4 linked regions of the Homo sapiens genome follow. The protein of the gene in region 2 interacts with the protein of the main gene of each other region in a pairwise test. Each region holds a gene or a part of one and is shown on either strand. Other genes may lie near its edges. The genes, in order: BANP, ZMIZ2, SCAMP1 and TRAPPC6A.

The links.
Region 1: the proteins of ZMIZ2 (region 2) and BANP interact in binary tests that used the Homo sapiens proteins (3 or more experiments, as listed by UniProt).
Region 3: the proteins of ZMIZ2 (region 2) and SCAMP1 interact in binary tests that used the Homo sapiens proteins (3 or more experiments, as listed by UniProt).
Region 4: the proteins of ZMIZ2 (region 2) and TRAPPC6A interact in binary tests that used the Homo sapiens proteins (3 or more experiments, as listed by UniProt).

The regions. Positions count from the first base shown.
Region 1 is NC_000016.10:88,073,406-88,077,816, reverse strand, and holds the end of BANP (protein BANP), read right to left. Parts: intron 1,228-4,411; coding exon 1,156-1,227; 3' UTR 501-1,155; downstream 1-500. UniProt on the Homo sapiens protein: Controls V(D)J recombination during T-cell development by repressing T-cell receptor (TCR) beta enhancer function. Binds to scaffold/matrix attachment region beta (S/MARbeta), an ATC-rich DNA sequence located upstream of the TCR beta enhancer.
Region 2 is NC_000007.14:44,751,846-44,758,873, reverse strand, and holds part of ZMIZ2 (zinc finger MIZ domain-containing protein 2), read right to left. Parts: intron 2,687-7,028; 5' UTR 2,625-2,686; coding exon 2,575-2,624; intron 2,450-2,574; coding exon 2,335-2,449; intron 1,928-2,334; coding exon 1,725-1,927; intron 1,497-1,724; coding exon 1,313-1,496; intron 1,027-1,312; coding exon 766-1,026; intron 1-765. UniProt on the Homo sapiens protein: Increases ligand-dependent transcriptional activity of AR and other nuclear hormone receptors.
Region 3 is NC_000005.10:78,355,748-78,363,629, reverse strand, and holds the start of SCAMP1 (secretory carrier-associated membrane protein 1), read right to left. Parts: upstream 3,014-7,882; 5' UTR 2,959-3,013; coding exon 2,902-2,958; intron 1-2,901. UniProt on the Homo sapiens protein: Functions in post-Golgi recycling pathways. Acts as a recycling carrier to the cell surface.
Region 4 is NC_000019.10:45,175,232-45,182,639, reverse strand, and holds the start of TRAPPC6A (trafficking protein particle complex subunit 6A), read left to right. Parts: upstream 1-4,402; 5' UTR 4,403-4,421; coding exon 4,422-4,505; coding exon of another isoform or gene 4,506-4,547; intron 4,548-7,408. Other genes in the region: BLOC1S3 (biogenesis of lysosome-related organelles complex 1 subunit 3), read right to left, coding at 2,735-3,343. UniProt on the Homo sapiens protein: May play a role in vesicular transport during the biogenesis of melanosomes.

The sequences.
Region 1 (4,411 bases), on a different chromosome or scaffold from region 2:
GAACTCCTCCCAGAGAAAGCCCAGAGAGGCCCCGCTCTAAGTCAGCGAACACGGCTTCACGTAGGCCCTTCCCAAGCCCCTAACGCAACTGCCACAACGGTGTAGGTGAAGCAGTCCAGGCCCGGCTGGTCACCAGGGATTCAACTGCCTCTGGCACTTCTATTTGCAGATATTATCTCTGCCTTAAAAAAATCTGTAAATAGTAGGGCCTGCCCCTGTGGCTGCAACTTTCTCTAAGGACCCCAGGACTGTGCCTTCTGGAGCTGGCAGAACTCTGTGGTTTATGAGAACAAGAAGTTCCACAGCTGTGTCCTAAACCAGGTTTCCCCTCGGCAGTGCCTACAACACGGAAACAGAACTGACTGTCCCGGGGTGCCCACACCTACTGTCTGCACAGTGGAGAGGGCAGCAGCGTGGCCTGAAGGCCAGCGAGCCCAACCCCCCAGGGACAGGCACTCTCTGGCGAACCGTCTCGCAGGAGGAAAAGCGTAAGGCTGCTGTGGTCATAAATACATTTTATTTCATTAGAAATGCATAATTACAGTGTTTAAGAGCATTTCCCCTAGAAAAGTAGGTCAGCAATACCCCATCGGAACCGAGAGCTGGCTTTGCAAACACCTGCCTCATGACACTGGACAGAGCACACAGCAAAGGGCTCCCGTCTCATGACACTGGACAGAGCACACAGCAAAGGGCTCCCGTCTCATGACACTGGACAGAGCACACAGCAAAGGGCTCCCGTCTCATGACACTGGACAGAGCACACAGCAAAGGGCTCCTGCTACTCCCCTGGGATTTTTTTTTTCAAATTTTCTTTTTTGTTATAAACACCATAGCAAATTAAAAAAAGCTGTTTAAACAGAAAAATATCATAGTTCTTGATTTCCCGCGCATATGCGACGCTCTCCGCACCGTGCCTCCCCTCGTGCTCCGACACCAACAGCAGGACTCAAACGAAAGGGGTCTCCGGCTGGGGGCGGCGGCGGCTGCTCTTTCAGTTGATAGGATGCTGTTCCCCGCGGAGGCAGCGGCCTTCAGACGCACTTCAGCAGAACACGTGCAGCCGCTGCCTGTGCCGAGGCCGTGAGAGCAGGGCGCGTGGGGGCCGGGCCGTAGGCGGAGCCGGCGAGGGGCTCCTGGTGCCATGGGCACCGCTCACTGAATCTGGATGGCCCCGTGCTCGAGCTGCATCTCCGGCTGTAGCGTGGGCTGCAGGGCTTCGGCCGTCTGCAAAAGGGAGAAAGGAGGGACTTTCTAGAAAAATACCCAGCACTGCATGGCCAGGGGGTGTCATGAACAGCCAGTGACTTTAAGGCAGAATGAGAAACACGCACACAGGAGCGCGAAGGAGCCCTGACGGCCCCAAGGCTCACCCGACTTGGTACACAACGCCTGGCTCCCAGCGGAACGACGCGCCCACGACCCTGGCGCCCAGGGAGGCTCCGGCACACCCAGGCCCCGGCCCGCCCCCGACATGGACTCCGTCACCGGGGCCGGCGCAGCAGCTGCTCCTGCCTCTCCACCCCCAACCCGCTGCCTCACTGGGAAGTAACCTGGAAGTGGAGAACATCCTGGCCCTCCCGAAGATATTTCCCTGAAGCTTCAGGTACCATTTTGCCTTCCTATAAACACTGTCCCAATGTTTCAACAAAGGATTTTCGGGGCAGCTATGATTCTTCCCTCAAAGATACAGGTTCTGGTCAACGAGTTACAGATATTAAAAGGACTTCAAGTACGAAATCACAGCTTTATCTTAAAATGAGTTAAAGGAGGTCGGGCGCAGTGGCTCATGCCTATAATCCCAGGGCTTTGGGAGGCTGAGGCAGGTGAATCACTTGAGGTCAGGAGTTCAAGCCTAGGCTGGCCAAAATGGTGAAACCTCGTCTCTACAATAAATACAAAAATTAGCCGGTGTGGCGGTGCACACCTGTAGTCCCAGCTGCTAGGGAAGCTGAGGTAGGAGAATCACTTGAACCCAAGAGGCAGAGGTTGCAGTGAGTCGAGATTGCACCAATGCACTCCAGCCTGGGCAACAGAGCCAGACTCCATCTCAAAAAAAAAAAAAAAAAAGTAAAGGAAAAACATACAGTCTTGGAATAAGTCACTCATCCTCCAGCTCAGCCACACGGAACACGCCCCAGGTGGAGGAGCCCACTCTAGGGCTGCCGTGCACACTCCCAGAAGCTTCAGCTGGAAGGCACAGGAACCACAAAGGAAGAGCCAGGAGAAGCCACGAGCCCACGGCCGAGCCCACGGGAGGAAGAGGCCTGGCAACTTCTACTCTAGTTAAGGTCCTGCTTCATTTTATTTTTTAGAGATAGGGTCTTGCTCTGTTGCCCAGGTTGGAGTGCAGTAGTGCAAGCACACCTCACGGCCGCCTCGACCTCATGGGCCCAAGTGATCCTCCCACCTCAGCCTCCCAAGTAGCTGGGACCACCAGTGCACACCACCACGCCCGGCTAAATTTTTTTGAGACGGAGTCTCACTCTGTCACCTAGGCTGGAGCACAGTGGCGCAATCTCGACTCATTGCAACCTCCGCCTCCCGGGTTCAAGCAGTTCTCCTGCCTCAGCCTCCCGAGCAGCTGGGATTACAGGCACCTGCCACCATGCCTGGCTAATTTTTGTATTTTTAGTAGAGATGGGGTTTCACCAGGTTGAGCAGGCTGGTCTCGAACTCCTGACCTCAGGTGATTGGCCTGCCTCAGCCTCCCAAAATGCTGGGATTACAGGCGTGAGCTACCGTGCCCGGCCCCAGCTAATTTTTTTACGTTTTGTAGAGATGGGGGTCTCGCTACGTTGCCCAGGCTGGTCTTGAAGTCCTGGGCTCAAGCAACGCCCCTGCCTCGGCCTCACAAAGCACTGGGATTACAGGCATGAAACACTGCACCTGGTCCAGGTTGTGCTTTTTCAAGACAAATGTCAAATGACACTCGATATACTGTTCCCTGGATGGAGGAGGGGCCTTCCAGGGTAGGATGAGGGGTCAGTATGAGGACTGTCTCCTGCGAGCCCGGCCACAGCTGGGAAGGCCTAACGGGAAGGGGTGAACCTCAGCTGGAATGGAGGAGCCACACCAGGGCCCTGGGGTGGGTGGCTGAAGGCCATGGGAGGTTGGGGTAGGGGGGCCACCGCCTGGGATGCAAAGCCCCTTCCCCCAGACAGCTGGAAAGGCAGCTGGGGACTTGGGTGGGTGGGGACAGTGGGGCACAGGTCTGGGCTGGCTGGGACTCACTTGCCCTCCAAGGACAGTGGCCAGACCTGTGTTCTGGGCAGAGGCTGGTGGAGGTGCTGCCTCTGCTACAGATGGTTCAGGGAGCCTGTGACACCCACAGGCCACCGCGCATTAAGACAAGTGTCTTCCCCTGCAAATGGCACCCCCCTACCCTCCCAACCCACTGCTCCAGGGAACAGGCCCCACTCTCCACTTTGAGGATTGGCCACCCCCACAGGCCAGCTACCTGCCTTCCCTCCTAAGGGAACCCATCTTCTCAGAGCCAGGCCCTCACAGCTGAGCCACAGGTTTTCCTAGAACGAGCTCAAGCGCGTGACCCTGCTCTGACCCATGCAAGATGCAAGACCATTCCCAAGCATGACTGGGGTGGGGGCTTCATGTGGATAAGGAGGCTCAACCAGAAACCTGTCTCTGTTGGGTGCAGTCACGCCTGCAGAGTCACCATGAAGGCCTTCGGTCACTTCCCAGTGGGGCAGAGCTAGCCTGAGGACAAGCTGAGATGGTAAGGCAGAGAGCTGGGCCCTTGGTGACAAGCTAACGCACCCTGCAGTTGTCTGGCCTCAGATGGGCAAACCCGCTCACCACCAAGTCCAACCACGCTGGGGTTTTCTGCAGGGAAAGCGGCCCCTTAAGCACGCCGTCTTCCTTGGCTGTTACGATGGATCCTAATTAAATCATTCACCTGGGGCCTGCCAGGAGGGCATGGTAACAGAGAGAGCTTACAGGAAGCTAGGGGTGTAAACACCAACCATGGGACACAGGTTTGTTCAATTCTGAAATCGGAAAATGACCAGAAACTTATAATGCAGCAGGACGCCCTCAGGCATGGCCCCCACATCTAGTTTCCTGGGCGCGGACCTCACTGCCCTCCTGCAGCGCTCCTATCTGGAACGGCACGGGGGGCTGCCACGCGTCCTCGGCAGGGGCTGAGGCAGCCACGCCTGACTGTTCTTCACGGACAGGCCAAGGTTCACACCACATAAAATAAGCGCTGCCGAACGAGTTTGCCTTCACCATCCCACCCACCCGCTCCTCACTGCCTGTGCGTTCTGCGCCCATGGCCCTCACCGTGCTTCCAGCGCATCTCCAGTGAGGTCGGCGACAATGTGGAACCAAACACCACGCAGAGTACAGGGCGCGCCTCTGCGGGGGCCACCGCGCCCATGGGCAGAGTACA
Region 2 (7,028 bases):
GGCATGATCTCAGCTCACTGCAACCTCTGCCTGCTGGGTTCAAGCAATTCTCCTGCCTCAGCCTCCCAAGTAGCTGGGACTGCAGGCGCCCGCCACCACACCCGGCTAATGCTTTTTGTATTTTTATTAGAGATGGGGTTTCACCATGCTGGCCAGGCTGGTCTTCAACTCCTGACCTCGTGATCCACCCGCCTTGGCCTCCCAAAGTGCTGAGATTACAGGCGTGAGCCACCGCGCCCGGCCTAATTTTTTCTATTATTAGTAGACATGCGGTTTCACCACATTGGCCAGGCTGGTCTTGAACTCCTGATCTCAAGTGATCCACCTGCCTCAGCCTCCCAAAGTGTTGGGATTACAGGCATGAGACAGCATGCCCGGCTTTTGCTTTTTTTTTTTTTTTTTGAAACAGGGTCTCACTCCTGTTGCCCAGCCTGAAGTGCAGGGGAGCGATCACAGCTAACTGCACCCTCAACTTTCTGGGTTCAGGCGATCCTCCCACCTCTGCCTCCCAAGTAGCTATGACTACAGCCACATGCCACCACACCAGGCTAATTTTTGTAGAGACACGGTTTCGCCATGTTGCCCAGGCTGGTCTCAAACTCCTGAGCTCAAGGGATCCACCCTCCTTGGTTTCCCAAAGTGCAGGGACTACAGGCGTGAGCCACCATGCCCAGCCAGAAGCCTGCTCTTTACCACAGCTCTAAAGAGTGCCTGGGTGAGGGAGTTGGTACCCAAGGCCCCAAACTAGGTGACCTGGACACTCACCTCAGAGTAGGTTCTCTTGACCCCCTGTCGGGGCAGTGGCTGGGCCTGGGGAGGCCCAGGATACCCATGTTGGGGCAGACGCTGCCCTGCATACAAGGGTGTCATTCCTGCTGCCCGGGTGGGGTTCATAGCCAAGGGGGAGAGGCCAGAGGGGCCCATTACCCCTCCTATGCCAGTAGGGTTCATGCCAGCGGGGACACTAGGCCCCCGGGGACCTCCATGCTGCAGAAACTGGCTGTTAAAAGACTGTCCGGCCCCCATCTAGGAAGAGAAAAAAGAAGAATGGTCCAGGTCCCACCCACAAAGGGCTCCAAAAGATAGGCATAAAACCCGCCCACCCACCCATGTGGGCACCATACCCTTTCACAGGACACCCCAGAAACCTCTCCCCTCAGACCCTCACTCCTTCCCACACATCTCTCTTTTACTGGCTTCATGAGCCCTGGCATATTCCATGCTTGTCCCTGGAGCCCACTGTCTGGCTGAGTACCTCCTCCCAGGCCCTCAGGCTGGCTGCCATGTGGGAGGAGCTGCTGAGGGGGCTCACCGCTCCATACTGGCTCAGCTCCTGGCTCTGCTTCTCCTGGAGAGCAGCCACGGTGGCTGTGGCTGTGGCGGTGGCAGTGGCTGCCGCAGCAGCCACAGCTGCAGCAGCTGCCGCTTGCGTGAAGTCAGTGGAGGGTCTTGCAGCATGTGAGGGGAGGCCCAGGCCCCCCGGGCCGCCTGCATACCTGCAGGAGACACAGGATTGCCACGCTCTCTGCGTGGGCTCATGAGGGCCAGGACTGTGCTCACCCCAGAGGCATGCAGCACCCAGGGGGAGCCCATTCTTTCTAGACCCTCCACTACAGCTGTCAGGAAGCAGAGAGGGAACGTCCAGCTGATCAGCGCCACAGTTCTGAGGTGCCTGCCAGATTGATGGCTCCTAGCATACCTGCCAGGTGAGGGAACTTGCTTACCCGGTGGTGAAGCCGGGGGCCCCAGGGTAGCCCCCGCGGCTGTACACGCCTTGCTGCACGTAGCCCTTGTTGGCGCCGCCTTCAGCAAACGCCTGCTGTCCCAGGCACTGTGGGGAGGTCAAGGCGGAGCTGCCCCCTGCCACACCAGGCATCATGGAGCTGCCAGAGGGACTCCCTGCAGGGCCCATGGGGTTCCCCAAAACCTATGAGGAAGCAGGAATCACCAAAGGGAACCAGCCAAACAACGTGCTTCATGCAGCAGCTCCAAAGTGCTAGAAACCAACAGGCCTGGCAAGTGGGTTGGGGGAGAGGTGGGGGGGACAGGGTATAGCACGGGAAGCAGGGAAAGCAGCTGTCCACAGGGAGGTTGGGGCATTTTGTGAAGGCTAGGTGAAGACAGGAGAAGAAAATCCCACAGCAGGTGTGGAAAGAGAACCAGTGTCCAAAGACTTAGGGGACTCAGGAGGCCCCATCCTCATATGTCATGCCTCAGCCTCTCTGTCCTCACCTCTCAGCCTCTTCGTCTCTCAGAGCTCTGAGGAGGCACTAAGCACTGCCAAGTGCTGGGAGGCTCTGTCTGCTCGGGGGTGGGGCACCAGTGGGTGCTTACCTGGCTCTGTGTCGCGTTGCCAACTCCCCACACAGTAGTGACCACAGACAGCGATCCAGCCGGCTGAGTGGCGCTTTGTTGCCAAGGCACAGACTCATATGCGAATGAACCATCACTGCAGGGAAAGAGGCTGCTGAGGCCTGGGTCAGGAAGCCACTGGTGTCCAAGAGTCTAGGATCTTCCAGAAATGCCACCCCCAACCCCAGGGCCTGAGGGGTGGGCAGAGGAGCCCACACTCACCCGTGTGGCGCAGGGGGCAGGGCAGGTTTCATGGGGTTCATGGAGTTCATTGGCAATGGAGCAGCCTACAGGCCGGGTCTGACAGTTTTTATCTGGAACTCAGCTGCTCTGGCTGCCCGACAGGAAGGAAGGGATGTTAGCTGCGATGCAGCCAGGAGACCCTTTCAGCAGGGTGGAGGGACCCCGGTGCCAGCAGGCCCCACCTCTTTCTCAATAAGGGACCCCTGGGCTCTGATGGCAGGCAAGGCAGTGGAGGGGCCTAGTACTGACCCACCCCACTCACTCTGGTGAGGATCTGCCCCCACAAATACAGCCTGGAGGCCAGCATGAACCCTTTCTGACCAGGCCCTGCCACCCAGAGTCCCTGGATCAGCCCTAGAGATGGACTTCCCGATTCCAAATACTTTCCCCACTCTCCCGCCCACACCGAGGCCTGGCTATCCTTATAAAGCCAGGGACAATCCTAGCTACCCCGTGGAAACTGGGGTTTAGAGAGGAGCCAGTAGCCAGTAACCCCACAGAAGGCCCTGGGGTGAAGGACAGAGGGCAGTGGAGGTGAGGGGACTCCCTGCTAAAGGTCTTGTCTACCCTGAGTAGCCCAGGTAGGGGCATAGGCGGTTCTGGAGGCCAGGGGCTGAGAAAGCCGAGGAGGAGAGTGCAGGGGTGCGGTGATCACAGGAGTGCAGTGGTCAACCAACAACTCTCCATCCTGGCCTTGGGGAGGGACATGCAGGATACCTCCTGAAATGGGGTGTGGGGCCAGTAACCTGGGCTCTGGCTAGCAGCCCCTCCCAACAAGAAGGCCCTCTTTAGGGTAGTAGAAGGGCTCCAGGCCAGGGCACCTCAGAACTGACCCAGATTCCACCAAGTGGGGGCTGCCCGAGGCTGATATGGTCCTAGGGGCCAGGCAGGCAGACCCACTGGCCCATCCATGACACCCCCAGGAGAGGGCAGGGACACACAGCACAATAGATGGAGGGTGGGCACCCACAGACCTGGCAGGGACTGTGACTTGGCCAGTGTTTCTAAGAAAGGGGCTGGGGAGACATTGAAGTGACTCTGCAAGATGGGGCTGAGTGGATACCAGTGACCTGGTGCTCAGGACAGGGCAGCAGAGGGGGTGTGTCAGGGAGGACGCATGCAGGACCACAGTGCTGGCACCATGGGACTTACATGTGCCACGCTAAGTTTGCTCTCCCCATTTAGTAAATAAGCCACGGAAGTGACCACACCTTCAGGCTGCTTCTGAGTGCCACGCCTTCCGACACTGCCACAAGCAAGCCCCTTACCAAAGCAGGCCCAGACATGCCCTGGAGCCCTGCCCCTGAGTGTCCCTGAAGGGCCCTCACTGGCACTACCCTGGGTTCTGACACTCCCAGGACCACCTGACATGTCCACCTCTGCCTGCCTAGGCTATCCACAGAGGAACACTGGCTGCAGCACAGGAGAGGCCGCTTCAGCTGTTTCTCAGGAGTCCCCAGGCATGCTCGCCTTGGATACTACTCCCTTTTAGGGCCTACAAGGCTGCCACACACACAGACATGCCACCTGAGGCGTGCTGACCACTGGTGCCATCCTGCCATCGCAGCACTCACATGGCCTCTCCCTGCCCCAGGAGAGGGTGGCCCCGCATTCATCTAGGCTGCCATTTCTTGTGCTGACCGAGGGCCTCACCAATGGAGGTAGGAACAGCCTCACCCCTCAAAATATAGACCTGGAGATTCTGAGGGCGAGCTGTGTGCCCAGGGCCCCAGAGCAGGTGAGAAGTAGAGCTGAGCTCTGCCTGGGGAGTCTAAGCATGTGGCCTTTCACTGGATCTTCCCATCACCGAGCACTGGGACTGGGGGGTACCAATTAGGGAAGAGGGAGAGGGCAGTGTTCTGGACTTCCTCACACCCTCAGGGGAGGCAAGACTTGATTCCCAGCCCATAGGCTCCTCCCCTTGCTCCCCCAGACCAAGTCCTGCCCAGGAAGCAGGGGTGAAGAAAACCAGGGGCTGATGGCTCCAGAAGGCTCCAGGCACCTGGACTCTAGGCAAGAACAGGCCTGGGAGCTGAGATGGCCCAGCCAGGCAAGGTAGGGGTGGCAATCCCAGTCCCATAGCCTGACTCAGGAATAGTGATGTTGGGGGACAGAGGAACCTGCCAACAGCCAGAAACTCCTCCCCAGAACTGCTGGGTGGGGCCTTGAGCAGCCATACACAGATTTTAGGACTTAGAATATAGATATGGTAATCAAAACTGTGTGGTACCAACATGGGAACAGAACCATGGGCCAACAGGCGAGACCAGAGAATCTGAAATTGATTTGCACAAATAGGCCCAAACAATGTCTGACAAAGGTGCGAGAGCAATTCAAAGGAGGAAGGACAGCCTTTCCAACCAATGGTGCTGGGACAATGGAGCAACTGGGCATCAAAACAACAAACAAAAAACACCTAAACTTCACACCTTATACAGAAAGTAACTCAAAATGGTTTATAGATTTAACTGTAAAACATAAATCTATAAAATATTCAGGAAAATATATAGGAGAAAATCTTTGTGATCTAGGCCAAAGAGCTCTTAGACCTGATACCAAAGGCATGATCCATAAAAGAAAAAAACTGATAAACTGGACTTCATCAAAATTAAAATTTTTCCTTCGGGAAAGGCCCTGCTAAGAGGATGAAAAGATAAGTTACAGGCCAGGAGAAATATTTGCAAGCTGCATATCCAACAAAGGACTAGTATCTAGAACATATAAAGAATTCTCAGCCAGGCACAGTGGCTCACACTTATAATCCCAGCACTTTGGGAGGCCGAGGCAGGAGGACTGCTTGAGCCCAGGAGTTCAAGATCAGTCTGGGCAACAGAGTGAGACCCCCGACTCCTCAAGAAATTTAAAAATTAGCTGGGCGTGGTGGCATGCACCTGTGGTCCCAGCTTTTCAGGAGGCTGCAGTGGAGGGATCACTTGACCCCAGAAGGTGGAGGCTGGGGTGAGACATGATCATGCCACTGTACTCTAGCCTGGATGACAGAGTGAACCATGATTTAAAAAACAAAACAAAACAAAAAAAGAATTCTCAAAACTAAAAAAAAAAAAAATTAAAATTAAAAACTCCAATTAGAAAATAAGCAAAAAACATAAAGAGACACTTTGCCAAAGAGAATATACAGATGGCAAATAAGCATAAGAAAAGATGCTCAGCATCACTAGTCAGTGGGGAAATGCAAATTAAAACCACAGTGAGATATCACTATACATCCATCAGAATGGCTAAAATAAAAAATAGTGACATCACTAAATGCTGGCAAGGAGAAACTGGATCTCTCACACATTACTAGTGGGAATGTAAAATGTACAGCCACTCTGGGAAACAGTCTGGCCGTATCATATGGAACTAAGCAAGCAGCTACCCTACTATGACCCAGCAACTGCACTTGTACGCATTTATCTCAGAGAAATGAAAACTTATGTTCACATAAAAACCTGTACACAAATGTTTATAACTGCTTTATTTGCAAGAGCTATGGAATGGAAACAGCCCAGATGTCCTTCAATGGATGAAGAGTTAAATCAACGGTGGTACATCCATAGCCCGGATGCAATATAAAGGAATGAACTACTGATATATGCAACAACCTGGATGAATCTCCAGAGAATTAATGCTCGGTGGAAAAAGCCAATCCCAAGAGGCTACACGGTGTACGATTCCTTTATTTAGCATTCTTGACACACCAAAATTAGGGAAATGGAGAACAGATTGGTGATTGCCAGGGGTTAAATGTGGGGGTAAAGAGAAAGGTACTAATCTCTTCTCCATTTCTGTAATTTTGGCAGGAGGAAGGTGGGCGTGAATATAAGAAGGCAACAGGCTGGGCACGGTGGCTCACGCCTGTAATCCCAGCACTTTGGGAGGCTGAAGTGGGCAGATCATTTGAGGTCAGGAGTTCGAGACCAGCCTGGCCAACATGGTGAAACCCCAACTCTACTAAAAACATAAGAATTAGCTGGGCAAAAACTAACCGGGCGTAGTGGTGGGCGCCTGTAATCCCAGCTACTCAGGAGGCTGAGGCAGGAGAATCATTTGAACCCAGGAGGTGGAGGTTGCAGTGAGCCGATCGCACCATTGCACTCCAGCCTGGGCAGCAAGAGTGAAACTCCATCTCAAAAAAAAAAAATAGAAGGCAACAGGCTGTAACCTCTTTACTGTATCAGTGTAGTGTCCTGGTGCAATGTTGTACTAGTTTTCCAAGATGTTACCATTGGGGCAAACTGGGTAAAGGACAGAATAAATCTCTCTGTGTCATTTCTTATAATGCACATGAATCTTTAATTTTTTTTTTTTCTTTTTGAGATGGAATCTTGCTCTTTCACCGAGGCTGGAGTGCAGTGGCACGATCTAGGCTCACTGCAACCTCCACCTCCCAGGTTCAAGCGATTCTCCTGCCTCAGCCTCCTGAGTAACTG
Region 3 (7,882 bases), on a different chromosome or scaffold from region 2:
GGAAAACAAATAGGATTTAATGAAAAAGAAATTAGCATAGTTACCAAATGCGAAATATCATATACTTGAAAATAAGAGCTTTATCTTCAAATACTGCAAATAAAAACAGATTTGAAAAATGGGTCGGGCCCAGTGGTTCACGCCTGTAATCCCAGCACTTTGGGAGGCCAAGGCGGGTAGATCACGAGGTCAGGAGATCGAGACCATCCTGGCTAACACGGTGAAACCCCGTCTCTACTAAAAATACAAAAAATCAGCCGGTGGTGGCGGGCGCCTGTAGTCCCAGCTACTTGGGAGTCTGAGGCAGGAGAATGGTGTGAACCCAGGAGGCAGCGCTTGCAGTGAGCAGAGATCGCGCCACTGCACTCCAACCTGGGCGACAGAGGGAGACTCCGTCTCAAAAAAAAAAAGAAAGAAAGAAAGAAAGAAAAACGATCTGCTTGAACGCAGTGGCTCCCGCCCGTAATCCCAGCACTTTGGGAGACTGAGGCAGGTGGATCACGAGGTCAGGAGTTCAAGACCAGCCTGGCCAATACAATGAAACCCTGTCTCTACTAAAAATACAAAGAATTAGCCGGGTGTGGTGGCGGGCACCTGTAATACCAGCTACTAGGGAGGTTGAGGCAGGAGAATCACTTGAACACGGGAGGCAGAGGTTGTGGTGAGTTGAGATCACGCCATTGCACTCCAGCCGGGGCAACAGTGCAAGACTCCGTCTCAAAAAAAAAAAAAAAGTAAAAAAAGAAAAATGATCATAAAGTAACTCAAATGATTCTAGAAACATTTCAGATTTAAGTAGAGTATCAGAAATGTTATTTCAAAAATCACTTTTACATAAATATAAGCAGAAGTAAAAAGACAAAATATAGATATAAAACTATACTTTGTGAGGAGGAGGGGCAGGTGAACATAAATGGAAAAATAAAGGGTCAGATACACTGACAGTGCTATAACAGTCACCAAAAACAGAGAAAGATCATAAGCAGAAATATGTGTACAACCAAGTCTACTTTAGACCTAAATGATCTGTCCCTGATGCATTTTACAAACTTGAATAATCATTGTCCTGGATACATCCACTTATAAAAGAACAAAAAAGATTTATAACGTTATGCCACAATGAATATTTAAAACAACTCCTGGGTTTAGAATTACTACAGCAACTTTATGAATGTCAGAAGAGGAAAAGTGTCATGGCAATATCAGATGTCACAAAAGGACAGTCTGGGCTAAGATGAAGACAATGTTTTGCCCTAACAAGAGAGCCAGTTAATATGAAATGAACCATGAAATGGAATGACCAAGTAGAAAATACACTGCCAAATCGTCAGATGCTGAATAAACAGCGTCAGTGAATTATCTGAATTAGGAAAGGCTAAAAGGTTCTTGATGTTTTATCTTCAAAATATTTTAAAATAACACCCATTTAACAATTTATGAACGGTCTCTTTAGAAAGTCTACCATTTAAGAACTACCTGATTTTCCACAACATGGAAGCAAGTCCAATACTAATTGAAACAAAACTGCCAGGAAAAAAAAAAAAGTCTTAAAATGCAACCATGTCACTGAAAGGTACAGGCCAGTTGTACTGAATTTTAAGTGACATTAGGGACAATGAAACAGTGACTGAGTCTAATTCTACACTGCTACAAAGTGAGTCGAGTTGTCAATAATAATCAGGGTCATTTCATTAAAATAATCCTCCTTGGAATTATCAGGCATTTAATAATCAGAGCAGAAATAGTTTTCCTCTTCCAGGATTCTTAATGAAAGATAAAACCAGGAGTAAAAAGATGTAAACTCAACAAGCCAGAAGTGACACTTGTGTGACCACAAATTAGAGTTCCTGTTTTATTCTGTGTGACTGCAAATTAAAGTTACTACTGCACATGGCCGGGGGGATTGAGAAACAACTTCAACCAACAGTTGGAAACAAATTACACGTGCTAACAGTTACACTCATTAGGAAATTCAGAATACTTTCAAAGAGAGAGTTATTTAGATGTTGCATTCATTTAAACGCAGACGATGAATATCTCAGCCGCCTTCCTTTGCAGGATTCTGTGCCAAGCCCTTCCGAAGCCGGGGTTGATAAGGTCGACTCCAAGAAGAAAAGCAGCTCAAGTAGGAAATGGTATCCTCACATAGCCCAGAGAACCGGTGACGCACTAGGAGCTTGGAAAATATCCCATCGTTTACCTTGCTAGAAGCAGCTGGGTAGGGAAGAGGTCGTCCACGTGCACTATTGTTTTCCAGATATGTTTATTTTTAAGTTTTGCTTTGGTATCAATAACCTCAACCTCAACCTAACAGAAAGAGGGGGGATGGCAGCGCCACTGGTGGTATTTGGGTGCAACACAAGTTTAAAAAATAAAAACATAACCTTTTTTTTTTTAATTGCAGCATACTCGGTGCCCTCACCTCTCTCCTCCTCCACACCTCTGCCATCACCCCACGCAGCTCTCCGCCGCCGCCACCTCGGGTCCCCATGACAACCCCACCCCAGGGCGGGCCCCCCTCCGCCGACTCCCGGCCCTGCCAGCCACACTTGCTTGGCAAGGGGCGACTCTACCTGCCCTCGGCTTTCTCTCCTGAGAGGCGGGCCAGGACCCCTCCGGGCGCGCGGGCCCAGTCCCGGCTGCAGACACGACCCTCACCAGTCGGGGACGTGTGGAAGGGCGACCGGGCACGAGCTGAGGAGGTTCCACCCCCAAGCCCCAAAACCCAAAGGAGTGACACGGGGCCGGGGCGCGACCCCAAATGGAGGACGGCGGCCCCGCGCCCCTCTCTGGGCTGCTAAGGGGAGCCGAGGGGCAGACGCAGTGGGCGCGAAGGAACTCGTCCGTTTTCACAAACAACGACGCGTCGCGGCGGCAGGAGATGCTGGGGCCGAAGCTCACCTTGAAGGGATTGTTGAGATCCGGGTCGGCAAACGGGTTACTGTCGAAATCCGACATCTCTCTGGCTCTCGGCGTCACCCACCCGACCCAGGCGCAGAGAGAGAGACGAGGCGAGGCCGCCGCCCCCCTGCGCGCTCACGTCGCCGCCGCCGAGCAGATCCGGGTGCAGCTCGCGGGCCACCCAGCCGGCCGCGCCACTGAGCATGCCCGGTGCGGCGGGCTCCTGGCCGCGGCGCAGCTCGCGTTCGCCATCCCGTTCCTCCGGGCCCGGATCCCACGCTCCGGGCTTTAGCTGCGACCGAGTAGGCAGTCGGGGCGAAGGAAACGGGAACTGAAAGCGATGAAAAGCGTTCCACACGCCACGAGCCCGCGGGATCCTCGGAGAGTATGGAACCCTTCCCCTCCGCTCTCAGCCGGAGGCCAGCTGCGTCCAGCCGGGCTCGGTCTTCTGAACACCGATTTCAAATCAGGTCCTCGGGGCCCAGCGTCACTTAGGGAAGTGGTGGCATTTTGTGGTAAGGACGCACACTTGTCAGGTTGGGGGAGGCAGCCTGAGTCGTGGGCCGCGCACCCCGGGAGCAGTGCCGTTAGACCGTGGGACGCGGGCACTGGAGAGGCTACTGCACCGCCCTCCGCAAATTACCTCCCCGGGGCGGGGGCGCGGCCGCTGCTAAGGATTTTTGCATACCCCTGACCCCACCTGAGAATCCCGGCCTCCCATCTTCCGGTCTCTCTGACTCTAGGTTGCTGCTAAATCACGGAGAGCAGCCTTGGCGCTGCCGGTCCCAACTTGATCCAAGGAGCCTTGAGAAGGAGATGAGATTCAGTACCAGGGGCCGGCCGTGGCTCCCATCCTCCGGAATCTGCAAAATGGCTACTTCTTCAGAAATAATGGGGAGAGGGATGGCAAGAGGCCAGAGATCAAGGCCCTCGAGTATTAACTTGAGCATTTGGGCACAAAATAGACACTTTTGGATTTTCCCGTCTTTTCCAACACCAAGGATGAGATTATCAAAAGATGTGTTAAATTAATTTGTACCGGCCGGGCGCGGTGGCTTACGCCTGTAATCCCAACACTTTGGGAGGCCGAGGCGGGCGAATCACAAGGTCATGAGTTCGAAACCAGCCTGGCCAATATGGTGAAACCCCCGTCTCTACTAAAAATACAGAAATTAGCCGGGAGTGGTGGCGTACGCCTGTAGTCCCAGCTACTCTGGAGGCTAAGGCAGGAGAATCGCTTGAATCCGGGAGGTGGAGGTCGCAGTGAGCCGAGACCGGGCCACTGCACTCCAGCCTGGGAGACAGAGCGAGACTCTGTCTCAAGAAAAAAAAAAAATCAATTTGTACCATTCCTTGCCCCACCCTGCCGAACTTATTGAAAGAGCATCGCTTTCCTCACTTTTCTCCTCTAACAGAAAAGCACTTAGATGAAGCTACAGGGAGCCAGAATTCTTTTGACTTGGTGGGTACCGGAGGATTGGAAGAATCTAGATTGAGTATTCCTTGGCCTTTGGGGAGCTTGCTCTATGCAAAGTCACCCAGGAAATGATACTCCCCCCACTGTGAAACACTAGCTAGAGATGATAGACAAAAAGCACATTTGTTGTAATCTCCCTTTGACGGGATTCAGGTTGGGATAGATGTCGAAGCAGCTGCTTCTAGGTAGTCAACGAAGATGTCAACTAGTAAATGACAACAGACAAGGATGAGCACAGCAGAGCTGTACGATTCTAGATATCAAAAAGAGCAAGCAGTCTGTTGTACTCACCATCGCATCCTCAGCAGCTGCCCAGTGCCCGGTTTTAACTTAGTGCTCAGTGTATGTGTCAGGTTTGAATCCCAATTCTGATACTACCTGTGCTACTCTCTTCACCTCTCTGAGTCTGTAAAGGATTATTTAAGAATTAAATGAAACAACATACAGAAAAGTGTCCTGCATGTATATTTAGTGCCTAACAAATATTGGTTGAACGTCGAAAGTGGCAAGGAGGCTCAGTATGTTCTTATACGCTTTGCCTCCCTTCTCCTGAGCAAGCATGTCCTTGCCCAGCTCATCTGCTTCTCTCACCACTTTTGCCCTCACTCCCTCCACCTGTCCTCCAAATGACTCAAAATAATCTGCACTATTTATTATGCATCTACTATGTTCCAAGACAATGAGGGTCAGCTGAGCCCGCATTGCAGGATGGAAATTTCCAACTATGTTCTGTTTACAGCTAATGATATTTGCACCTAATGCAAAGGTTTACAGACTTTACTGTTATAGAATCATTTGGAATACCTGTTGAAGATGCAGACACCCACCTTACCATACCTCCTATTGCTAAGATTACGCTTGAAAGGATCTGAGGTAGGGGCTCTGGATCTGCATTTTTTATTTTTTACATCTCTATACATTATTTTACATAAATGTATAAATGGAGTCATGACATACATATTGAATTTTTCACTTACAAAAATTTTTATTCCGTGTATTCCCTCTTCTCTTCCCCTACATTAACAACCTAGTACATTTCTTTAAATATTCTTGTAATAGTGTATATCTGCACTTACATAAAATAACATGTAATTGTATAAAAACAATACATATTCATGCAGATATGCATACACTCTAATACTGAGCTTTGGCATTGTCTTGAAAAAGTTAGATCATATGTATATTTTTCTGCAGCTGTTTTTCTCAATACGTATGGCAGAATTTCTCAGCAAGATGTGCATTGTCAGAGAGACAGTCTTAAGGTTTCTTCCCCTAGTATGCCACATAAATATTATCACTTTTTATGTGTAGCATGCCTATAGAGTGAAAAGGGAAGCATGGCCTAATGGAAACCATATATCTGATTCATTATTCTTAACAACTGCAAAAATCAGCATATGTAAAGGATCTCAGGTGATTTTTTTTTTTTTTTTTTTTGAGACCGAGTCTTACTCTGTCACCCAGGCTGGAGTGCAGTGGCACAATCGTGGCTCACTACAACCTCCACCTCCCTTGTTTAAGCAATTCTCCTGCCTCAGCCTCCCGAGTAGCTGGGATTACAGGCATGCACCACCACACCCGGCTAATTTTTGTATTTTTAGTAGAGATAGGGTTTCACTTTGTTTGCCAGGCTGGTCTCGAACTCCTGACCTCAAATGATCCAGGCCACCTCTGCCTCCCAAAGTGCTGGGATTACAGGCATGAGCCACCATGCTTGGCCAACCTGAGATGACTTTGGTGGTGGCTGATCACACTTTTGGGAACACTGATATGAGGACATGCAGACATATGGTCCATGGGTGAGGGTCTTAATCTGTTTGTGTTGCTATAAAGGAATACGGGAGGCTGGATAATGTATGAAGAAAAGAGGATTATTTGACTCATGGTTCTGCAGGCTGTCAGCTTCAGATGAGGGCCTTATGCTGCTTCCACTCATGCAGAAGGCAAAGGGGAGACTTCGTGCAGAGATCACATGGCTACAGTGCAAGATGGGGCATCAGGGGAGAGAAAGGGAGAAGCTGACTCTCGGTTCTTTTGAACAACCTGTTCTCAAGGATGAGAACTCACTCTCAGGAGAATAGCACCAAGCCATTTGTGAGGAATTCATCCATATGGCCCAAACACCTCCCACCAGGCCCCAACTCCAGCACTGGGACTCATATTTCAACATGACACTTTGCAGGTCCAAAGCCATACCCAAACCATAGCAGGGAGCTTATTAATTCATTAGCCTCCATGAAATTTAGAATTATAGAATGTGCGAGCTGAGAAGGAACCTCAGCCTCTCTCATGATTGAAGAAACTGGAGTTTGGACAGGTTAAGTAATTTGTCTCAGACACCAAGGAAGTGAATGGGGAAACAGGGAACAGAACTCAGGTCTCTTGACTAATGTTTTAGACATTAAATAAATAGGTTATTAAATGAATAGAATTATTCTATATGAATAATTTCATATAGAAGGAAGAAATGCTATGTGCAAGGTAGAGAGAAATTATACAAGAAGCCTCATTTGGTGCAGGAGTTCATTTTACGGAAGGTACCTCCTAAATTTGGTAGAACAAAGACTCAAAACCAGTCTATGCCCTCTCTCCTGCAAACCAACCGTTTGATCTTGAACATATCAACTCACCTTTCTAACCAGAGTTTCTACTCTAGTACATCATTCAAGTATTTCTTGAGCAACTAAAACAGTGATGTTGTGGATAAAGCAGTAAACCAGGTATAAAGCGTAAGGCCTGCTCCAGAAAACTTCCTAAAAGGCCTAGAACATGGCTAAAGGATATCTCAGATCCTTTGGACAGTTCTAACGTTCTATTAATCTGGGACAGTGGCTCACTCCTCCCTAACCCTGTTTCTTTTCCCCTCAGAGTGTGCCTCCCATCATCATCATGCTGCTTCTCCTCAGACTGACACTTTTAATTGGTGAACCTATTGAGCAGGGTCTAGAGTCTGAATTCCTTGTTTTCTAAACTGCCTAGCTTATAGCTGGGGAATGCTAGGAAAATGCCAAGTTAGATATTTACGTTTCTTGCCTCAAAAGGTTCACTGGATTCTGGGTTCACTGATGGATTAGAACTGAAATCCATCATCTCTTACAGTGGGTCTAGTCTCCAGATTTGCTGCTGTGTCTGCTGATACCCTCGACGCCCCAGCACCAGCCTATCTGGCTCCCTATTCTGCCACTGGCTACATTTTCAGGCAATAACAGAGGAGGTGCAGGCATTGTGTGGTAGGCCAAATAATCCTCCCCTCCCCCAAAGATGTCCATGCTATAATCCCTAGAATCTGTAAATATGTTACCTTACATGGCAAAAGAGACTTTGCAGGTGTAATTAAGGTTAAGAACCTTGAGAGGAGGGGATTATCCTGGATTATTCAAGTAGGCCCAATGTAATCACGAGTCCTTGAAAGTGGAAGAGGAAAGCAGAAGAGTTGCTGACTTTGATGATTGAGGAAGGGGTTCTTAAACTAGGGCATGTGAGTGGCTTCTGAAGCTGGAAAGA
Region 4 (7,408 bases), on a different chromosome or scaffold from region 2:
CAGGATGGAGTGCAGTGGCATGATCTCAGCTCACTGTAACCTCCACCTCCTGGGCTCAAGCGATTCTCCTGCCTCAGCCTCCCGAGTAGCTGGGATTACAGGCATGTGCCACCACGCCTGGCTAATGTATTTTTAGTGGAGATAGAGTTTCACCATGTTGGCCAGGCTGGTCTAGAACTCCTGACCTCAGGTGATCTGCCTACCTCGATCTCCCAAAGTGCTGGGATTAAAGACATGCGTAACTGCGCCTGGCCTATTTATTTTTGAGACAGAGTCCTGCTCTGTCGCTCGGGCTGGAGTGCAGTGGCACGATCTTGGGTCACTTCAACCTCTGCCTCCAGGGTTCAAGCGATTCTCATGCCCCAGCTCCCTGAGTAGCTGGAATTACTAGCACGTGCCTCGGCCTCCCAAAGTGCTAGGATTACAGGCGTGATACATCGCCCAAAATTTTTGTATTTTTAATAACTACAGGGTTTCACCATGTTGGCCAGGCTATCATCTCTATTTTTAAAAATTAAACTATAAATTATGATTACTAGAACTATCTATGAGAACATCTTATTACTGTTTCTCCCACTGGACTGCGACCTCTGTGAGGGCAGGGACTGGGTGCTATACCCCTAGCCGCAGCACAGGTCAGGTACCCAAAACGTGTGTGTTGAATTAATAAAATACGAGTAAATACAGAACCAGGGCAAAAATCTAGGGCCCCTGATTTCCCAACTACAGCTTCACCTTCCATAAGCCAGGCATGGAGGTCTCGGGACCCCCATTCTCAGAGAAATCAACCAACTCACCCTTAGCTTAGATAGGGAAACAAAAGGAACTAACCATAAGGGTAAATGCTTAAGAGTTTTAATCAGTCCGCCATAAAAAGCTCCTCCCCATTCTCCATCTTGGGGGCTCAGATCTTGGCTTCGGGTTGAGATGAGGGACAGGGATATCAGGCTGGGAGAGGAGAGTAAATATGAATGCGGCTGAGGGACCAGAGCTGGGATCGGAAGAAAACACAGGTGAAAAGGAGCAGAAAGAGACTGCTAACCCCAGTCCCTGAGCCAAGTCAGAAATCCAAGTCCTTTTATAGCATCCAGGAGCCAAATGTAGTGAAATCCACACATCATATCGTTCTTATCTGCAAAGTGCTGTCATCTGGCGCTGAAAGCACCAGGACTGGGCTGAATTGGGCCCGAAGTGCCTGAAGGGTGTCACTTTAGGTCTGGAGAGTCAAGAGGAGACGCCACCTTGGCCTACAGAGTTGAGAGCGAGCATCATCTTGGCCTGGAGGGGTGTGCAGGAAATGCCACCTTGGTCCAGGGAGTTGGGAGGAAGATCCCCTGCCTTGGGTTAAGAGGGGCCATCATTTTGGGCCTGCAGAAGGAAGGAAACCATGGGGAGTCCCCAGACCCCAGGATCAGGGAGGTGTAAGTAGGATGGAGACAGTAAAAGAAAGCAAAACCTATCCCACGACACTGCTGGACTTGGGAAACAGAAATCAGGCTGAGAGGGCGGGGCTAAGCTCAAAGGGGAGGAGGCAGGAGGCAGATGGGAGAACAAAAAGTAGAACCAGCACACGGAACCAGGGCCAAGCTTGGGCAGCAGAACAAGGACCCAGCTGGCTAGGCGCAGTGGCCCACGCCTGTAATCCCAGCATTTTAGGAGGTGAGGCGGGTGGATCACCTGAGGCCAGGAGTTCGAGACCAGCCTGGCCAACAAGGTGAAACCTCATCTCTACTAAAAATATAAAAAGTAGCCAGGCGTGGTGGTGCATGCCTGTAATCCTAGCTACTCGGGAGGCTGAGGCAGGAGAATCGCTTGAACTCGGGAGGTGGAGGTGGCAGTGAGCCGAGATCACGCCACTGTACTCCAGCCTGGGAGACACAGTGAGACCCTGTCTCTAAAAACAAAACAAGGACCCAGCCTAGGGTGAAGGCAGTTCTGGAAGTGGAGCTAGGATGGGAGGCGTAGCCAACTGAGTGAAGGAAGACGGCAGGGAAGCTGTGCCACATCCTGGGTTCTTGTGGGAAGAACGGGAACAAGCTCCCCACCATAAGCAGAAACCAAACTCAGAAAGGCAGAGCAGAGCCCAGTGTGTGGTGGCTCACACCTGTAACCCCAGCACTTTGGGACGCCACAGTGGGAGGATTGCTTGAGCCCGGGAGTTTGAGACAAGCCTGGGCAACATAGTGAGACCTTCTCCCCTCTTCAAACCGACAGAAAAAAATTAACCGGGCAGCTGGACGTGGTGGTGCAGGTCTGCAGTCCCAGCTACTCTTGAAGGCTGAGCTGGGAGGATCACTTGAGCCCAGGAGGTCGAGGTTGCAGTGAGCAGTAATCCCGCCACTGCACTCTAGCCTGGGTGACAGATAAACACCCTGTCTCCAAAAAAAAAAAAAAAAAAAAAAAATTGGTGAGCCCCCAGGGTGGAAACAGATTAAGGAGCAACTATGTAACAAAGGCTGGAGCCAAGCCCCAGGGGAAGGCTCAGAACCAGGCGGCAGGGTCAGGATCGGGAGAGGAACCAGATCTAAGGATAGTGGGGCCCTGGTCTCCGCAGTAGGGGTTGAACTATATCCAATATAAAGCATTATCCAAGGGGACCGGATTAGCCCCCATGGGTGACACCAAGATGGGAGCGGGGGTGGGGGGTGATAAGAGACACAGGAGACAGAGTCAGGTCCCAGAGGCAGCAAGGCCTACCCCCAAATTGCAGTCAGGTTGGGAAGTAGAATCATGGCTAGGCCCGCGGCCCCGGGTCTTTCTCAGGCTCGGTCCCTGGCACGCCGCGGATGTCCGGCAGCAGGCGGCAGCCAGCCACGATGTCCAGACGCTCGGCCAGCGCACAAAGGTCCCCGCGCGCCAGGCGCACGCTGTGGGCCGCCGCCAGCCCCGCCGCCTGGGCTGCCGCCAGCCTACTAGCCAGGGCGGCCACGTCGCGGCCTGCACGGCGGTAGACACCGCTCACGGCGGCCGCCACGTCGTGGTCCAGCCGCGCCTGGCTCTCCGCCAGCCGAAGTTGCAGGAGCGAGCGCGCGGGGGCGGGCGCCGGGGCCTCCTCCGTGCCCCAGGCCTCCTCCGCCGATTCCCGCTGCACCACGAGTGGAGGCAGGTCCCTCGGCGCGGCCGTCGGTTCCGGCTCCGGCTCCGGCTCCGAGTCGGTCTCCGCGGCTTCCCCAGCCACCCGCAGCCCCGTGGGGCGGCCGCGCGTCGGGCCCGAAGGACCCAGGTACAGCTCCTCCTCCTCCGACGAGGACGCAGAGCGCTCGGAATCCGTCTCGGTCGCCTCCCCCGGCACCACCGTCTCCGGCCTCCGCAGGGGCCTCCGCCGACGACCCTGGGACGCCATGGCACCGAACTAGGGGAGAAGAGCGAAGGGACTGCACGTGAGACCGGCGCCGCGGTGGGTAAAAGGCGCAGGTCCTGGATTCCCAGCCCCTTCGCTGATTCTCTTAACGACTTGGTGTCAGCTGCTCCCCGTCTGGGCCTCAGTTTCCTCTTCTGTAAACTGGGTGATGATGGGGGTTACTGGACCCCAGGCTCTTCAGCGTACAGATGGGGAAACTGAAGACCAGCTCGAACAAGGATCTGGGGCCCGAGTTCCCGGAGTCCCAAGCCGAGGTCTTTACGAATTTGCCTCCTAGTAGAGGCCACACCCTCCACCTGGTCCACCATGCCAATCTCAGACCCGGAAGCACACGGGCCCGTGAGCTGCTCGGGACCAGCGCCAGAGTCGCAGAAAGGATGACAGTCCGACTGGACTCTGCTGGGGGCACTCATGGGATGGGAGAAGCGCTAACGCCAAAGACCGTACCCGGCAGCTGACGCTCGGAGCTTGCGAGATCCGCTTCCTAACCCGAGTGCTGCGTTCTCACCGTGGCAGCTGAAGGGCTGTGATTTCAACCAATAGGGGAGCGGGTTGGGCGGGCATTAGCGGCCAAGTCACGTGGATTCGCCCGGCTACCAATCAGGAAGCAAGTTCTCAGCATCAGCTTTGAGTGAGCGTGCAGAAGAGTCACATGAATGGAGGAACCGCCAATAGAGAAACAGCTGGGCCGGCTCTTCCAGGTTGTGCGACGAGGAAAGTCTGGAGTGGACCAATAGGGATTTTAAAAGCCGAGTATGTCACGTGTAACCAGTAATTTGGCCAATAGGAATGCTCGAGAACCCGGAAATAGGGAAGGGACGGCAGTAAGAGCAGAAGATGTTGCCACATGTGGCCAGAGAAGGCGTAGGCCCGCCCCCTAGTGTCCCAGGCTCACGCGCACACCACCTGAGTCCGGGGCGGGGAGGCGGGGCTAGTCTAAAACACCAATGGAAGCCGGAGTAGGAGGGCTCGCGCCATGACGCAAGAGGCGTGGCTTACCAAGCCTGGCCAATGAGAGCTGGAAGCGCTGGGCGCATCTTTAGGCGTGCGAGGAGGGGGCATGGCGGATACTGTGTTGTTTGAGTTTCTTCACACGGAGATGGTGGCTGAGCTGTGGGCTCACGACCCCGACCCCGGCCCGGGGGTGAGCGCCGGGCTCCGTGGGGAGGAAGCGGGGGCCACCAAGGTAACGCCTCTGGGAGAGCGGAGGGCGCGTCAGGCGTCCGGGTTCGAACCCGGCCCAGCCCCGGCCTTGCAGGGCAACGTCTGGCCCTGGCTTCCTCCTTTGGAAAGTGGCGTTCGCGACGGTGCCGGCTCGGGGTTATTGCTAAATTGAGCGCGATGATTCAGGGTAAAGCACTTAGCTCAAGGCCTGAGTAAGCGGCTAGTAATCATAATAATGCTGTTATTGGGCGTGTGCTGAGGACTCGCCTCCCCCACTTACTAGGTGTGCGACCCAATGACTTAATCTTTGTGTGTCCTAGTTTTCTCTTTTGTAAAATGAGTATCATAACGTACCTAAGCCTCAGCGTGGGACATTTATTTATTCGACACCCACTTATTGAGCGTCTGTTGTATTCCAGGCACCGTTCTAAGACAGAATCCCTTCCTTGTGAAGCTTACATTTCACTAGGGGAGTCAAATAATAAAATGAAATATGCCGGCTGGGCGCTGTAGCTCCCAGCACTTTGGGAGGCCGAGGCCGTCGGATCACCTGAGGTCAGGAGTTCAAGACCAGCCTGGCCATGGTGAAACCCCGTGTCTACAAAAATTAGCCGAGCATGATGGCGGGTACCTGTAATCCCAGCTACTCGGGAGGCTGAGACAGGAGAATGGCTTGAACCTGGGAGGCGGAGGTTGCAGTGAGCCAAGATTGTGCCATTGCACTCCAGCCTAGGCGACAGAGCGAGACTTGTCTCAGGAAAAAAAAAAAAGAGATAATGGGGTTTTGCCATGTTGCCTAGGCTGGTCTTGAACCCCTAGGCTCAAGTGATTCTCCCGCCTGGGCCTCCCAAAGTGCTAGGATTACAGGCGTGAACTACCGTGACTGGCCCGGGACTGTGTGTGTGTGTGTGTGTGTGTGTGTGCGCGCACGCGCATCCTGCTCGGTCGCCCAGGCTGGCTGGAGTGCAGTGATGCAGTCATGGCTCACTGCTGCCTCGACCTCCTGGGCTCAAGCGATCATCCCACTTCTCAGCCTCCCAAGTAGCTGGGACCACAAGCGCTGCTGGCGCCACCACACCTGGCTAATTTTTTGTATTATTATTATTTTTTTTAGTAGAGACGGGTTTTCACTGTTAGCCAGGATGGTCTCCATCTTCTGACCTCGTGATCTGCCCATCTTGGCCTCCCAAAGTGCTAGGATTACAGGCGTGAGCCACTGCACCCGGCCAATTTTTTTTTTTTTTTAGTAGATACGGGGTTTCACCATTTTGGCCAGGCTGGTGTCGAACTCCTGACCTTGTGATCCACCCGCCTCGGCCTCCCAAAGTGCTGGGATTACAGGCGTGAGCCACCGCACCTGGCCATGTAAGACATTTTTATTGGCTCTGGTTTCCTTCCAGGGTTAGAAGCCCCAGGGAGGATGTTGCTTGTTACCATCTCGATATACAGATACAAACCTGTCATAAGTTTAAAACATCATAAATCAAAAATGCATTTAGCCAGATGTGGCGACTTGCACCTGTAATCCCAGGTACTCAGGAAGCAGAGGTGGGAGGATCACTTGAGGCCCACCGTTCAAGACTAGCCTGGGCAACATAGCAAGACCTCACCTCTAAAAGAAATTTTTATTTTTATTTATTTATTTATTTTTGAGACAGAGTCTTGCTCTGTCGCCCAGGCTGGAGTGCAGTGGCGCAATCTTGGCTCACTGCAAGCTCCGCCTCCTGGGTTCACGCAATTCTCCCGCCGCAGCCTCCTGAGTAGTTGGGACTACAGGTGCCTGCCACCACACCCGGCTAATTTTGTTTTTTTTTTTTGTATTTTTAGTAGAGATGGGGTTTCACCATGTTAGCCAGGATGGTTTTGATCTGACCTCGTGATCTGCCCGCCTCGGGCTTCCAAAGTGCTGGGATTACAGGTGTGAGCCACTGTGCCTGGCCAAGAAATTTTTAAAATTAGCTGGGCGTGATGACACATGCCTATACTACCAAGAACTCGGGAGGCTGAGGTGGGAGGATTGCCTGGGCCCAGGAGTTCAAGGCTGCAGTGAGCTATGATCATGCCACTGCACTCCAGCCTGGGTGATAGAGTGAGACCCTGTCTCTAAAAAAACATGGGGATTACTCAGTGAACCATCAAAAATTTTTGGACTCTTGGAGCTTTGTCATCATTGGAGGAGACAGACAAGTAAATGAGTAAAGTGTCTGGTACATTGTGTAACTGCTATGAGGAAGATACAGCATGGCCCAGGGAGTATGCATCAGCCTGGGGGTGGGTAATAATGTCCCAACACTCCATATCCTTCCTGGCTTTCAAACGAGAAACCCTGGAGTCCCAACACCTGCCTTGTCTCCCTCACCTGCAGCCCTCCCCCAGGCTCTGCCCAGTCAGTCTAAATACCTTTCTCACGTGGCCCCTCCTCTGCCCTGGTCCAGTGCTTTCCGCTCTCCTGTGAAATGAGCCTGCTCCCTTCTCCCAGCCCATTCCACCTGTCACATCTTCACCATGCTAACAACTATTAATCCTTCAGATCTTAGCGTAACAATCCCTTCCTCAGGGATGCCTTCCCTGAGCCCCCAGTCAAATTTGGATCTCCTTTATACATTCTCCTGGTCTCCCTCTCGCACTTTTTTCTTGGTAGGCTTCATCATACTCAATAAGGATGTATTTGATTTTTTTTTTTTTTTTGAGACGGAGTCTCGCTCTGTCGCCCAGGCTGGAGTGCAGTGGCGCGATCTCGGCTCACTGCAAGCTCCGCCTCCCGGGTTCATGCCATTCTCCTGCCTCAGCCTCCCGAGTAGCTGGAACCACAGGTGCCCGACACCACACCCGGCTAATTTTTTTTTTTTTTTTTGAGACAGAGTCTCGGTCTGTCCCCCAGGC